Linked DNA regions of Homo sapiens: region 1 is linked to region 2. The links come from fine-mapping of genetic effects on gene expression. Tissue or cell type: whole blood. Region 2 holds a variant in brackets; the other region holds the start of a gene. All regions are shown on one strand. Distances are from middle to middle.

Evidence for each region. PIP is the estimated chance that this variant, and not a neighbour inherited with it, causes the effect.
Region 1: SARAF starts here. The variant in region 2 is fine-mapped to the expression of SARAF in whole blood (TOPMed, PIP above 0.99).

Annotation. Positions count from the first base shown.
Region 1 is chr8:30,079,266-30,087,372 of GRCh38, forward strand. SARAF (store-operated calcium entry associated regulatory factor) reads right to left here and starts at 3,799. Exons shown (of 6, transcript NM_016127.6): 1 at 3,582-3,799. The coding sequence starts at 3,684. RefSeq lists an enhancer at 3,363-3,712 and a silencer at 3,753-4,122.
Region 2 is chr8:30,052,230-30,060,336 of GRCh38, forward strand. No RefSeq gene overlaps it. Among named protein-coding and RNA genes, the nearest start is that of SARAF, 27 kb to the right of the region's middle. RefSeq lists an enhancer at 4,711-5,910. The variant C/T (reference allele first, on the strand shown) is at 4,076.

The DNA.
Region 1 (8,107 bases), 27 kb after region 2:
TGGGAATTCAGTAAGATGAAGTGGTCTTTTTAATTTAGTGGATAAAAGATGTCTTCTTTAATAAATAGCACTGGCATAATTGACTATGCAGCCACAAGAAAATCCACCTAAAGCTATATAAAAATTTAATTCCACATGGGCTACAGATCTAAAATTTCCAAGAACTATATTCAAATAAACCATGCTACATTAAACACAAACTACTACCTCCTCATACATAAAAAATAAGACAATGAAAATGTTCAATGGTTTAGAAAAATCAGACTGTATTAATCAACTAAATAACAGAAATAATAAATTGAATTTATTGTAACAGAGTTGCAATAATGCAAAGAACACTGAACTAAGTTGGTGTCACTAACTGGCTGTGACTTTGGCCAAGGCATTTAATTTACCTGTGTAGAAGTTTCCTCACCTACAAAATTAAAATATTATCAACCTTGAAATTTGTTGTGAAGCTTAGATATAATTTATTATCTGGCTGAGTACTTGAAGCATAACAGGTGATCAGGTATGATAAATATTACTGAAAGTTTTAAGATGGAATAGCATTACCATAATCCTATAGCATCTTTCTTCCCTAGAGATTCTTAAGGTCCAAGAACAAAATTCTAATACCCACGCCCCACTAGTTAGATCAGTCAAGGGACACAGGAGCTCCCTGAACTCCAGACTCATAAATCAAAATCACGGCAGGTCTCAAACAAGATAAACAAAACCAAACTCCCCTAAACCTGATCATCCCACATTCTTCCACATCTCAGGAAATGGTTAACTCCATGCTTCTAGTTGCTCAAGCCAAAAACCTTGGACTTCTCATCTTCTCTCCTCTCACTCCTACATCTGATCCTTCAGAAGATCATGTTAGCTCCACCTTCCAAACAGGTGACAAGAGAATCCAGCTACTCTAACCAGCTCTCTACTGCTCCTGCCCTGGGCCAAGCGGTCACCACTCTAAGAACTTACTGTACAATATTAAAATAGATAGCAATATATATTAATTCACTGGTTTCCCTGCTTCCCTCCTACCCTCTTCGGTCTGTTTTCCACAGAGCAGCCCAAATGAGCCTTTAAAGATATAAGTAATTTCAGGTCATTTACTCCTCCTCCCCACTTCAGGTTTCCAGTCAAATGTCACCCTAACAGTGACTTCCCTGACCAATGTACGTTTTTTAAGTCTCCACTTCTGCCCGCACACCATGTCCTCCTTACGCTGTTTATCATACACGGTGCATACCAATTTTCACAATATAGCATGTTATTTACATGTTTATCTGTTTATTGTCTATTTCTCCCCAATAGAGGTAAAGTCCTTGGAGGCAAGACACTGTTTTGTTCACTGCTATATTCCCAACACCCGGAAGAGTAACTTAATATAAGATTACATTCAATAAGGAATTTTGAAAATTCATTGGTAATCTCTTTAGAATGGTGCTAATTTTTTTTTCCAGACAAATTACTGCTCAATGTGAGCTAAAGTAATGGCATCCAAGTCAAACAAAAGATAAATTAGGGAGCCGATTAATGCTTTAGTAAAGGACTTAATAAATAGTATGTCAATAAAGTATCTTCATTTAAAAAGTTCCTCAAAGTGCCGGGTGCGGTGGCTCACGCCTGTAATCCCAGCACTTTGGGAGGCCAAGGCGGGCGGATCACCTGAGGTTGGGAGTTCAAGACCAGCCTGACCAACATGGAGAAACCCTGTCTCTACTAAAAATACAAAATTTGCCGGGCATGGTGGCACATGCCTGTAATCCCAGCTACTCGGGAGGCTGAGGCAGGAAAATCGCTTGAACCCAGGAGGCAGAGGTTGCGGTGAGCCAAGATCGCGCCATTGCACTCTAGCCTGGGCGACAAGAGTGAAACTGTCTCAAAAAAACAAAACAAAACAAAAAAGTTCCTCAAAGTAAACTTTGAAGTAGAATTTACATAAAACAATTGAGTTTACTCTGCAAAATATTGTGGTGCTTTGTGTTCCAGAACAATAGTTTTACAGCGTAGATAAACCAGGAAGTGGTTCATCTTTAATTTAAATTTGGTTCTTCTTTCATAGTTTTTATAGTTCTTCTGGCTCTTCAACTGTAAACTTCCTTTATTAAATTTATTTACGAACTGATTCAAAGTTCAACAAATTAAAGTTTCATTCTAGGTTTTCACTTGTAATTCTGATCAAGTCTCCCACTCATACACAGCTTTCTAGAAATACAAAAGAAAAACGTACAGACATTTAAATACAACTTGGCTTTTTATTTTTGGTAATAAAATGTCCACATCAAATGACTACTCAACGTGATGTGCTTGCAAATAGCACCTTCTCTCTCATTTCAGCATGTAAGAATAGGCTATTATAGAAATAAACCTGTTGCTTAAATTCGACAATGCAGGCATTTCCAATCACCAAATCACAAAGGCAATATGCTTTCCATGCCATCTTTACTTCGCAAAGCAAAAATGATGTTGTTTTCATTTTTTTTTTTTTTTACAGAATTCCAAAGTAACAGCATGCGTCATTTATTACATGGAAAAAGTCAAAATCTGTATCTAAGTATATAGACATATACGTATTAATTGCACGGAATATTACTGATCCCATGAAAATTCTTTAGACAATTTTAATACTGTACTGACATAAAAGAACCTCTTTCCTAAAACCCACTTATCATGTACCATCACTAAAAAAAACCGAGAAAATTATTTTTTAAATTCTTCTCTACGGTGAAAGCCAATGGGAAGAGCTGGTGCCGCGCGATGTACATCACTGCAATCGTCAGATAAGAGGCAGCGGTTCTCATAAAGACGCGGTGGCTCACGCCTGTAATCCCAGCACTTTGGGAGGATGAAGGCGGGTGGATCACGAGGTCAGGAGGTCGAGACCAGCCTGGCCAACATAGTAAAACCCCGTCTCTACTAAAAATACAAAAAAATAGCCAGGCATGGTGGTGGGCACCCGTAATCTCAGCTACCGGTGAGGCCGAGGCAGGAGAATCTCTTGAACCCAGGAGGCGGAGGTTGCAGTGAGCCGAGATCACGTCATTGCAGTGCGGCCGGGGCGACAATGTGAGACTCCGACTCAAAAAAAAAAAAAAGAGTGCAATCTGCGATTCTGCTAACAGACCTGCGAGGTCTGCAGCCCTGTCCGCTAAGGGTGACTCAGAGACTGCCAGTGGCAGGCAACGGCCGGCGATAGCAACAGGCAGCCATGACAACAGCAGGCCACGATGACATCACACAGCCATAACAACAAAGCAGATGCGCAGGTGAGTGTCCAGCTCTCCAGTTATACTCAGAGATGAGAAAGACGACAATGGGCAAATTCCGGGAGTCCGGGGCAGGGAGAAAGGGGACCTTAAGGATCTCCAGCCGTCCCGCCCCGCCCACTCGAGCAGTCCCTACCCGCCTCCCAAGACGCCTGGGAAGAGCAGTGGAACCAGGGAGAGCACGAACAGCAAAGAGGTCAGACATGGGGAATCCGGGCACCCAGGCTCCGGGAAGACGGCGCACGGAAACGCAGGGGAGCCTGCACCGGCTGACGGCGGCGGAAAAGGGCGAACGAAGCGCCTGAGGGCCCTGGCAGCACTCACCAGGGTCGTTCCAGCCCAGGGCAGGGCCCGCGGTCAGCAGAAACAAATGCAAGCCGAGGAGCAAGCAGTACCCGGCCGCTCCCGGCCCGCAGGCTGCGGCCATGGCGCTCGATGAAGATGGCGCCGGGCTGCCAGACGCCTACGGGCCGAACCTGGGTGCGGTAGCGCGCGCGACGCTGCGCAGCTACACCGCTACCCCTGGCGGCGGCGAAGGAACGGCCCGACTGCAGAGCTGCAGCCGCAACGGATCCGTGCGCCAACCCTACGTCACTGCCGCTGCGGCCCGTGGGGCTCAGTGAGTGGCCGCCGTGGGCCCCCGCCCCTGGAGCACAGCGCGGCTTGGGGCGGGGCGAGGCGGTGTGGGCGGGGCCAAGGGCCTGGGGAGGCACGGCTGGAGGCGGGTTGGAGGCGTGGCGCCGCGGTGTGGGCGGGGCCGAGGGCCTGTCGCCGCCGCGCCCGCGGGCGGGGCGAGGGCAGCGCGCAGCTTTGTTGTGTCTCGTCTGAGATTCGGGAAGCTTCTGTGCGTAGGCGATGCAGTTTGAGAGGCTGAAAACGTCACGACGCGAAATCTAAGAAATGTAGTCAAATTATGTATTATTAAAACCTCAATAATTGTACCAAGGGTAGTTCTGTGCTTTATTCAGCTCTATGTGTTCAGCACTTAGCATAGCGCTTGGTACATGGTTAGTGTTCTATGACTGGTTGCTAAATACAGAGAAGATTCAAGCGAAAAGTAACAGGGAAATACATTGTCTGGTTTCAAGGCTCAGAACCTTTACATGGTTCCTTGCGCATGGAGGCCGGAAGACTATAAAATGTCAAGAGGAGAAAATATCGTCTGAATGAAGAACCAGCCAGAGAAAACAGTTCTCTGGGCTTTTGAGGTCTAGCAGGCTTGGGTTTCTTTCATTCATTCATTCATTCATTCATTCATTCATTCATTCAATGAATATATGTTGAATACCTAATACGCACCAGGCACTGTTTTAGGCATGGATGGTACAGACAAGATCCCTGTACTCATTGAAATAGAATAGGACAAACGACATACCAATTAAACAACAAAAATAATAGGTAATGATAGGTAATAACATTGATGAAAAACAGGGTGATATAATGGAGCCTGGGGACACAACTTCAGGGAGGGCCTTGCTGAGGAAGTGGTTTTTGAAGCTTGGGACCTGAATGATGAGAAAGAACTAGCCGTACAAAGATCAGGGGACTCATCTTCCCATCTGGGGAACAGTGGATGCAAAAGCCCTAACTTTGTGTTTCGAGGAAGAGTTATTTGGTCAGATCCTATAAAGAGTTCAGTCCCACAAGATGGCCCCAACTTCAGACATCAATCACAAGTCTCAGGTTGTGACCTATGCTTCTGACCAACCAGCTATAAATTAGGGTTTCCAGGCCGGGCGTGGTGGCTCATGCCTGTAATCCCAGCATTTTGGAAGGCCAAGGCAGGTGAATCGCCTGAGGTCAGGACTTTAAGACCAGCCTGGCCAGCATGGCAAAACCCCACCTCTACTAAAAATAGGAAAAATAGCTGGGCGTGGTGGTGCACACCTGTAATCCCAGCTATTTGGGAGGCTGAGGCAAGAGAATCGCTTGAACCTGGGAGGCGAAAGTTGCAGTGAGTCAAGACTGCCCCACTGCACCTGGACCATGGAGAGAGACTCCCTCTCAACAAATAAATTGGGGTTTTCATAACCCCCCATCTTGAGTTCCATAATTTGCTAGAATGGCTCACAGAACTCAAAAAAACACTTTATGTTTACCAGATTATTATATTGAGCACCTATTAGTACCTAACAGTACCTGCCAGGCACTGTTATCAGTATTGGGGATACAGCAGTGAATAAAACAAAATTTGGGGGACAAGAGGCAAACAAGGCCATAACTGAAGCAAAGTAAGTTAGGGGAAGAGTGGAATAAGAGATGGCAGAGCAGTGGGGCCTCGGCATGGAACCAACCAATGCTGGGACCAAGGACTGAAATAAGAGATAATAGAGAATCTATGCTCAACATGTTAAGTTTGAGGTGACTATTAGGCATCCAGGTAGACGTGTCAAATAAATAGATAAACTGTAAAAGTCTGAAGTTCAAAACTAAGGTAAATTTGGTAGTTATGTTGTAAATATAAAGATAGCATTTAATGTCATGATGCTATTGTTTGAATGTGTCCCCCAAAGCTCATGTGTTGGAAACTTATTCCCCAAAGCAATAGTGTTGAGAGGGGGGACTCTTAAGGGGTGATTAGGTTATGAGGGCAGAGCTCTTAATGCTATTATCACAGGAGTGGGTTAGTTATTGGGGAGTGGGTTCCCGATAAAAGGGATGAGTTCAGCTCCCTTTCTCTTTTGCCTACCACCGTGAAATGACACAGCAGGAAGCTCCCCACCAGATGCAGGCCCCTGGACCTAGGATTTCCCAGCCTCCAGAACCATAAGAAATAAATCTCTATACTTTATAAATTTCCCAGTCTCAGGTATTCTGTTATAGCAACACAAAATGAACTAAGACATGTGGGAAGAGACACAGTAACATGAGAGAATTGAGATACCACAAAAAAGGAGGCCCAGGCTATGGAAACACTAACATTTGAACCTCAAGCAGAAGATTCTAGAAAGAATCTGAGAAGTAACCTCTGGTGAAGAAGGAGGAAGAACTAGGACAATAGGATATGGTAATTGAGAGAAAGAAAGAATGGTCAACAGTGTCCACTGTTGCTGAAAGCTTGAAGCAAAATTTGGTCTCTGAATTTTGCAATGTAGAAATCACTAATTACCTTAACAAGAGAATGTTTGTTATTTTAGATTCCCACCATGTACCATGTACAGTTCTGGACAGTCATGAACAAAAGATGAAAGGTTGTTATAATAAACATTCTAGTGGGAGAGGTAGCCAACAAATCATGTCATTTCAAATAAATAAGTGCTTTGGGCCAGGCACGGTGGCTCACACCTGTAATCTCAGCACTCTGGGAAGCCGAGGCTCAGGATCACTTGAGACCAGGAGTTTGAGGCCAATCTGGGCAACATAGTAAGACCCCATCTCCACAAAAAATTGTTTTTAAAAAATTAGCCAGATGTGGCCAGGCACAGTGGCTCACGCCTGTAATCCCAGCACTTTGGGAGGCCGAGGTAGGCAGATCATGAAGTCAGGAGATCGAGACCATCTTGGCTAACACAGTGAAACCCCGTCTCTACTAAAAATACAAAAAATTAGCTGGGCATGGTGGCGGGTGCCTAAGTCCCAGCTACTCAGGAGGCTGAGGCAGGAGAATGGTGTGAACCCGAGAGGCGGAGCTTGCAGTGAGCCAAGATCGCACCACTGCACTCCAGCCTGGGCGAAAGAGTGAGACTCCGTCTCAAAAAAAAAAAAAAAATAGCCAGATGTGGTGGCATGTGCCTGTAGTCCCAGCCACTCAAGAGGCTGAGGTGGGAGGATCACTTGAGCCCTGGAGGTTGAGGCTGCAGCAAGCCATGACTGCATCACTGCACTCCAGCCTGGGCAACAGAGCAAGACTCTATCTCAAATAATAATAAGTACCTTGAAGAAGAAAACAGAGCAATATGACAGGTAGTGCCATAACAAGTAGGATGGCCCAGAAAAGATTCTCTGAGAAATTACCATTTGAGCTGAGAGCTAAATGATGAGGCTGTAAAAGGAAAAAACAAACTGTTTTCTCCTTTCTACTGGCACAAAACACAGAGCAGTTCTGTGACCAGAAGAGGGGCTGGGGGAGTATTTCCCTACACACCAACCAACTCTAAAGGACATCAACACGATGTCCTATAACTCAATTCAAGTTAAGGGCCCAGTCTCCCACAAGACTGCCCCAATTCAGACGTCAGTCCAGGAAAATATTTTATGTTTACCAGTTTATTGTAAAGGATTTATAAAGGATACAGATGAACAGCCAGATGAAGAGATGGATAGGGCAAAGATAAGAAGGCCATGGGGCTTCCATGCCCTCGCTGGGCACTCCACCCTCCCAGCACCTCCCTGTATTCAGCAACCTAGAAGCTCATGAAATCTTGTTGTCTAAGAGTTTGTATAGAGCTTAATCTCCAGCCACCCGCCCCCGATCTCTCCTGTTGGTTGGTGGGTGGGCTGAAATTTCCAACCCTCTAACACTCTAATCACATGGTCTTTCTGGTGACTGACTTTTTGGTGTCTGTAAACAATACAGTATAACAACTATTTACATAGTATTTACATTGTTATTAGGTATTATAAATAATTTAGAGATTATTTAAAGTATACAGGAGGGGCTGGGTGCGGTGGCTAACACCTGTAATCCCAGCACTTTTGGAGGCCCGAGGTGGGTGTATCACTTGAGCCCAGGAGTTCGAGACCAGCCTGGGCAACGTAAGAAGACCTTGTCTCTACAAAAAAAAAAAAAAAAAAAAATTAGCCAGGCATAGTGGTGCATGCCCGTGGTCCCAGCTACTCGGGAGGCTGAGGCAGGAGGATAGCTTGAGCCTGGGAGGCAGAGGTTACAATGAGCCGAAATCACACCACTG
Region 2 (8,107 bases):
ATAGCTCTCCAGGTTAAAACCACATATGCAGACATTCTTCCCAACACACTCATTGTGCCCTTGTGGATCCAGGACAATTCCAGTTCCAGACATAGCCACAAGCTAACCCAGAACCCACTTTTTCCCAAGACTATGTAGAATCGGGTAATAACCCAGAATTCCCGGTCTTCACTCATCCTTCTCTCCCCTAAGAGCTGCCTCTAACCATCCAAAAGGTACTATTTATGAGGAAGTCCAAAAGAGATGTGTGAGAGATACTGCATACTCTTCCAGTAGCCACCTGGGTTTCCATGAAAATGTACTTCTGCTTAAGCAAACTTTCATCTCTGCATATTTTAAAAAGCAGCCTTCATCAAGCCCTTTTTAAAAGGCTTTGTTGTACATTTCCCCAAGAGCAATAGATGTCTGCTTACCCTATCTTTACTTATGAACCACAAAGAACAAAGAAGATCCGCTTTGGAATGACTCACTTTATCCTCCCATGCAGGAAGATCAAAGGCCAAGTTTAAATGGCAGCTTCTCTGACATCCATATCTTAATTACAGTCTGGGTGCCACATTTAAGCATAAATCTTATTCTAGAAATATATCTTATAAATCTAAACACATGTACATTAAAGATCTAAACTATAATAAAGTCTCTGACTCCAGTGTTTGGAGCAGCTACAACATAAACTCATGTACAAAAGATATGTTCGGATGTTCATTATTGCATTGTTGAAAATAGGGAACAAAATTGAAAATGTGGTAAATGTATATTGATATTGATAAAGGAATGGTGAGATTAAATTATAATATATCCATATGATGGAATACTATGCAGCTGTGAAAAGAATAGATTTATTCTTTGTGAAAAAATTCTGGACATTGTGTATAATTTCTATAATAATAACCAAAAAATGTTAACAGAAATTATTTCTAGGTAGAGAGACCACACTGAGAGGATGAAACGAAGGGGGCCGTGGGGAGTTGGGCAGATATAGACTTTTTTCTTTTTGGAGACAGGGTCTTGCTCTGTCGTGACTGACACGGTCATAGCTCATTGCAGCCTCAGACTCCTGGGCTCAAGTGATCCTCCTACCTCAGCCCCCTGAGTAGCTGAGATTACAGGCATGTGCCACCATGCCTAGCCAGATACAGACTCTTTCTTTTCTCTTTATATCCTTCTAAACTGTTCGAATGTTTTACAAAGAACTTGCATTGCTTTTCTTTTTTCAATTATGAAATATGCATATTTTAACTTATATATAGTTGTGAATGATTTATCTATATAATTTAATTAAATATAATTTAACTTGATAAATACTCATAATTTTGAATATTTTAATGTAAGGAAGAAATGTGTCTTTTCTCCTTTAATAAGGAAAGATTGTGCTGGGGATTTAAAAAACAAAAAACAACAACAACAAAAAAAAACATGATCAAACCTAGGTAGATGACCAGATGGTGGAGGATCCAAAAGCTAGGTAAAGTAAGAAATGATTGAGAGTGTTTTGGATTTTTAACTTGAATAAAAAATAGAGCTGTCTTCAAATATCTACAGTAAGGGAATTCCACTTTTATGTTTGTGAGGGCAAGATGATTTGAACCAATCCTATCACACACGGAAACTAACAAAACTGAGCAAAATATGAAAAGACATCTTCCCGAAGGCATCACAGAGCTAGCAAAATCATGAAGATTTACTATTTCTGGATCCAGGGAAGACAGGAACTCCTATAAATTATGTGGGCATTATTCCCATCCTGCCCTTCATCCACTAGAAAATGATTTACTTAGAAACAATGTGAAACATTGTGATACACAATAAGGCATTCTGTAAATCTACATATCATGGTTTCAACAACAGCCTTTCGAGTGGGAAGGGCCAATCCAAACCCAGAGTAAATGTCTACTTCAGTGACAACAAATCATTGCCCCTTTCATGATAGAAGTGGTCTCATGTAATCAACATGCCACCAGATGGTGGGCTGATTTCCCCAGGGAATTGAACCGTATTCAGGGTTCAGTGTTGGCCTCTGCCGTTGGGAGATAGGGCACTCAGCAGCGGTTGTAACCTGATCGGTTTTGGTGAATGGAAGACCCTTTTGCTGAATCGATGGATAACTTTCATCCCTACCACCTTAGCCACTTTGTTTATGAGCCAATGAAACAGGAGTAGGGCTTGCTGAAAAAAAGAGGCTGAATAATAGCCACAGAAAATGTCATCTTATGAAGTGACTTAAGATGCAACGTTCTGTCGGGGACATGAACTACTTACTGATCCTAATACTCTGAGTGGATGGTTTCCTGAGGGATGATGGCTTCCTGCTTGGATGTGATGATGCCTATAGTAAGCAAGGTGGAGATGCCAGAATTTCTGTGATATTCTACTACTCAGGTAGTTGTAAGCATGTATATTGGACAAAAAAAAAAAATCTCATCTTTGTTAAGAGAGGACCATACATCTACATTTCCCCCAGATATCCTTATCAATTTTTCTTTCTTTTTTTTTTTTTTTTTGGAGACAGAGTCTCGTTCTGTCACCCAGGCTGGAGTGCAGTGGCACGATCTCATCTCACTGCAACCTCTGCCTCCTGGGTTCAAGTGATTCTTCTGCCTCAGCCTCTCGAGTAGCTGGGACTACAGGTGTGTGCCACCACGCCTGGCTAATTTTTTGTATTTTTAATAGAGACAGGGTTTCACTGTGTTAGCCAGGACGGTCTCGATCTCCTGACTTTGTGATTTGCCTGCCTCAGCCTCCCAAAGTGCTGGGATTACAGGCGTGAGCCACTGCGCCCAGCCTAATTTTTGTATTTTTAGTAGAGATGGGGTTTTACCATGTTGGCCAGGCTAGTCTCTAATGCCTGACCTCAGATGATTCGCCCACCTCGGCCTCCCAAAGTGCTGGGATTACAGGCATGAGCCAGCTTGCCCAGCTTTATCGTCAATTTTTCAGTCTCATTTTTCCAAGCCCCTGGTCACCCATTCAAACCAGAAACCACTGTCTATTTTGAAAAGTGTAGATACATATGTCTTGCCATCTCTTATTTCAGATGCATAGCTCAAAATTCCACCCCCTCAGGGCACTTCCCTTCACTGTCCTTCCAGGTGGTATCAGCATATCATGCAGATCCATTTGTAAATCAGGCTACTCTTGACTTGCTGTCCTGTATGGAATTCCATCCACCTTGGTTGGCTCTGACAATGAAGAGATGCAATTTGCCACTTCGGAAACCCACTATCTCTGTTAATCTTGGGAAGTCCATTTTCATGACAGCATTTCCCACTATTAACCTTTGCCTACAGAGGACAACTATCATTGAGCCCTTAAAAATGCTAATAACTCTCTCACCAGTACCTTCCTTACTACCTTGGTAAAGGGAGATGCTCTGAACCCTCAGAGTAGAGTCAAATGTTGGATTATTCAGTCTCATAAGTAAATTCTAACATCCCACTTCCTTGAGTCTTCAGATACTGTGCTCAATACTATACCATAGAAAGTCTGGCATCTCTACCTCACTTACGGTAGGCATCATCACATCCAATCAGGAAACCATCATCATCCATCAAGAAACCATCCCAGAAAATTATTAGAACCAGTAGCTCATGTCTTTGACAGAACATTGAATCCCAATTCACAGGTGAACATAAAGGACTTCTCTTTCCACCATATTTCACCCCTCCCACAGCCCAACTTCCAGATGAATTTCCACATGGTTTATCCCTACTCTCGCTGGTACATATTAGCTGTATGGTACCATGATTTTTTTAGTATGTGACCTATTTCCTCCCAAGGCAAGTGCTATAATTCCAAGAGGTTATCATTCTTTTGCTGTGTGGCTTATTTCCTCCCAAAGCAGGGACTGTCTTTCCCTGTTAAGGTTGAGATCTGACTCTAGTTATTGGCCTGGAGGCAGAGATGTGGCAGGACTCAGTTTTAAGAAAAAATGCTATCTTACAAGGCATCTGCTTCAGGTGAGGCCGTTACATGGTCTCTAGACAAGGAAGGCTAATCCCCTTCAGCAAGAAGGAAGGGGCTGCTATGCCAGAAAGAAAGACTTAGGAAGATGTCGATGTTCAAGTTCTTCTGATTC[C/T]TTGAACAGTCCAATTCCAAAATTCCATCCTGTACAACTTTCACACCAATTGTCTTAACACAAGTCCTCTAGAAAGCAGAACTCAAGCAAAAAAAAAGAAAAACATTTCTGGCACTTGGACAGAAGCATGTCCAAAGACACAGGGTGAGGGAAAAAAGTGAGACAAATAAAGATGTGATGCAATGGCATGCAATGGATTGCGGCACTGCTTCACAATGAGCTACAGACACACAGTAGGTCGCTTTGCAGGCAGGTTCACTCTGCACAAAGGACTTCTCCAGAAGAGTTGCAAAAAGAAAACACATCTTGCAGTAATCCCTGAAAAGATAGGAATTTATTTCCCATTGGTCATTGCTCATTCCATTGAGCTAATTCCCTAAACAACTGAGTTGCACCATCTGGGCTCCCGGCAGCCACACAGGAAACCATATTCCACACCTTGCAATGTGTCGTCTTATTCAAATCTCAAAGTGGAGGGGTGACCTGGTGTGGGTGTGACACCAACCACGTGAAAGGAGAAGGCAGTTAAGAGCCTCTGAGAAGGTGTACAAGTGGTGCTGATATAGTGGATTTGGAAGTTCCAGTGCACAAGGAAGGAATGCTTCCACCAGGAAACACTGTCACGATGAATTGGAAACCTGAGACTGTCCTTGGACAGTTTGGGCTCCTCATGCTACTGAACAAATGGACAAAGTAAGGGGCCACTCTAACAGGTAATTCATCCTAATTATCAAGGGAAAATTAGGTTGCTGGCCAGGCGCGGTGGCTCATGCCTGTAATCCCAGCACTTTGGGAGGCCAAGACGGGCGGATCACTTGAATTCAGGCGTTCATGACCAGCCTGGCCAACATGGTGAAACCCCGTCTCTACTAAAAATACAAAAATTAGCCAGGCATGGTGATGGGCACCTGTAATCCTAGCTACCCTGGAGACTGAGGCAGGTGAATCACTTGAACCCAGGAGGCAGAGTTTGCAGTGAGCCAAGATCACACCACTGCACTAAAGCCTGGGCAACAGAGCAAGACTATTCTGAAAAAAGAAAAAAAAATGAATATTAAAATGACTCTTGAGCTTGCCCAATAACCTGGACCTATCACAGAGCCTTCTTTTGTTCTAGGCTCCTGTTAAAACTAGCAGCTTTGCGATCAGTCAGTAAATGGACTAGAGTTGCATACCACATAAGGAATATGTTGCCCGCAAGATCCACTAGGTATTGCATCATTTTTTTCATCTGGAGCCAGATGTAACGATTTATCCTTGGCCTTAGAAAGATATTTCAACATGTCCCATACTACTGGACTCCTAGAAATTTCCCTGAGGTAGAAAGCCCCTGAATCTTTGTCAGATTTGTTTCCCACCCTCTAACATACAAATGCCTTACCAATACATCTACAGTAGTTGCTACTTCTTGGTAGTTGCTCTTCTTGCTCATCAGATCCAATCAGCTTAATATAATAAATGTCATGGACCAGTGTGAAGTCTTGTGGAAGGGAAAGGTAACCAAGGTCCTTGCAGACTAAATTATGACATAGGACTGAAAAGTGAAGGTGTATTGCTGGCCCTGCCAGCTGAAAGCAAGCTGCTTCTGATGGTGTGTACTAACAGGTATGGAGGAAAAGCATTTGCCAGAGCACTTGTGTTTCAACTACCAGATATGTTCATGTACCCAAGTGATGAAACTACATCTGGAACAGCAGTTGCAATTGAAGTCACCATCTGGGTAAGTTTATGACAACCTATTATTACTCTCTATCCGTTTTCGGCACAGGCCAAATAGGCGAGTTGAATGGGGATGTGGTAGGAAGCACCAGCCCTATATCCTTCAAGTCCTTGATGGTGGCATTAATCTCTGTAATCCCTCCAGAAAGGCAGAACTTACTATCTCACGGTTCTAGAGGCTGTGAGTCTGATATCCAGGTGGTAGCAGGGCCATGCTCCCTCTGTATGTGCTGAGGAAGGATCTGTTCCAGGCCTGACTCTCAGCTTCTGGTGGTTTGCTGGTAATCTTTGGCATATATTGGCTTTTGGCAGAACTCCAGACATTACATGATTATTTCTGTTTGTGTGTCTGTGTCCAAATTTCCTCATTTTATAATGACATGAATCATTGGTGTTCACTCTACTCCAGTATAACCTCATCGTAATTTCATCTGCAGTAACCCTGTTATGGTTTGGATGTTTGTCCCCTCCAAATCCCACATTGAATGTGATTCCCAATGTTGCAGGTGGGGCCTGGTGGGAGGTGTTGGGAGCATACAGGAGGATTCCCTCATGAATGGTTTAGCACCATCCCCCTCGTGATGAATGAGTTCTTGCTCAGTTAGTTCACACAATATCTGGTTGTTTAAAAGTCTGGGACCTGGCCAGGTGCGGTAGCTCACACCTGTAATCCCAGCACTTTGGGAGGCCAAGGCAGGAGGGTCACTTGAGGCCAGGAGTTCAGCCAACATGGTAAAACCCTGCCTCTATTAAAAAAAAATACAAAAATTAGCCACGTGTGGTGGCACACACCTGTAATCCCAGGTACTCAGGAGGCTGATGCAGGAGAATCACTTGAACCCACGATGCAGAGGTGAGGTGAGGCAGTGAGCCAAGATCACACCACTGCAGTCCAGCCTGGGTGACAGAGCAAGACTCTGTCTCAAAAAAAATCAGTCAATCAATCTGGGACCTCCCTCCCTCGCTCTCTCTTGCTCCCACTCTCACCATGTGACGCACCTGTTCCCTGCACCTTCCACCATGATGGGAAGCTTCCCAAGGCATCACCAGGAGCAGATGCCGGCACCATGCTTCCTGTACAGCCTGCACAACTGTGAGCCAATTAAACCTCTTTATAAATTACTTGGTCTCCGGTATTCCTTTATAGCAACACAAATGGACTAACATAGACTCTATTTCCAAATAAGATCACATTCTGAGGCACAGAGCTCAGGCACTTTCTGTGTCCCTCCATTTCACCCCATTTCCTCACTCCAACTCTCCCTAGTCGCCTTCATCTCTAACTTGGATGTTCTTCCAATTGGGATTCCCCACAAGTCCTCTCAGCCCCTTTAATCAAGTGTCCATATCACAGCCACTATTGGTTTATCATTTTTGTAGATAGAGGTAGTTCTAGTGACTTTCACTTGGCCTATGCCACCATAACAGCCTTCATTCCACAGGTCAGGGACCCAACGTAGAGATTCTGCTAGTTGCTGAGTATGTCTATTCTAATCCTGCATTCTAGAACGCAGGTTCCATTCCTGTGTAATAATCACAGGATCATTCGAGGGACCCATGGGACTCACTGTGAAATTGATCTGAGCTAAAACTCTATAAGCTCTTACTCTGACTGGTGGACCACAGTAATGTTTTGAGCCTCCTGGAATTAGCATCAATTCAGTGTCCAGTAATCCCTAAACTATCTGATTATTTTCCCTTTCCCCAGGGCATAGTTACCCCAGTAAATAGCCACGGGTCCATTGAGGGAAGACTGGGGGAAAGATAAACAATATAAACCTGGCAATGTGGTAGGGTTCTTCCTCAAGGGGAACCCAGCCTCTCCTTCATTGAAGGGATTCTGGAGCTATAAACCAGCTCAAGTCTAGGAAATGATTCAGAGGCTATGACTCACTTGTGGTGACTTAAGATAGACTTCTGTTGGCTGGGCACAGTGGCTCACACCTATAATCCCAGCACTTTGGGAGGCCGAGGCGGGCGGATCACCTGAGGTCAGGAGTTTGAGACCAGCCTGGCCAACTTGGTGAAACCCTGTCTCTACTAAAAATACAAAAATTAGCCAGGCATGGTGGCAGGCGCCTGTAATCCCAGCTACTCGGGAGGGTGAGGCAGGAGAATTGCTTGAACCTGGGAGGCAGAGGTTGCAGTGAGCCGAGATCATGCCCCTGCTCTCTCCAGCCTGGGTGACAGAGTGAGACTTGGTCTCAAAAAAAAAAAAAAAAAAAAAAAAAAGACTTCCGTTTACTCAGCCTAGAACTCTTCCACATACATAAATCAAATAAGAATTTAGTAGACTGCCATCTATTTCTTCCA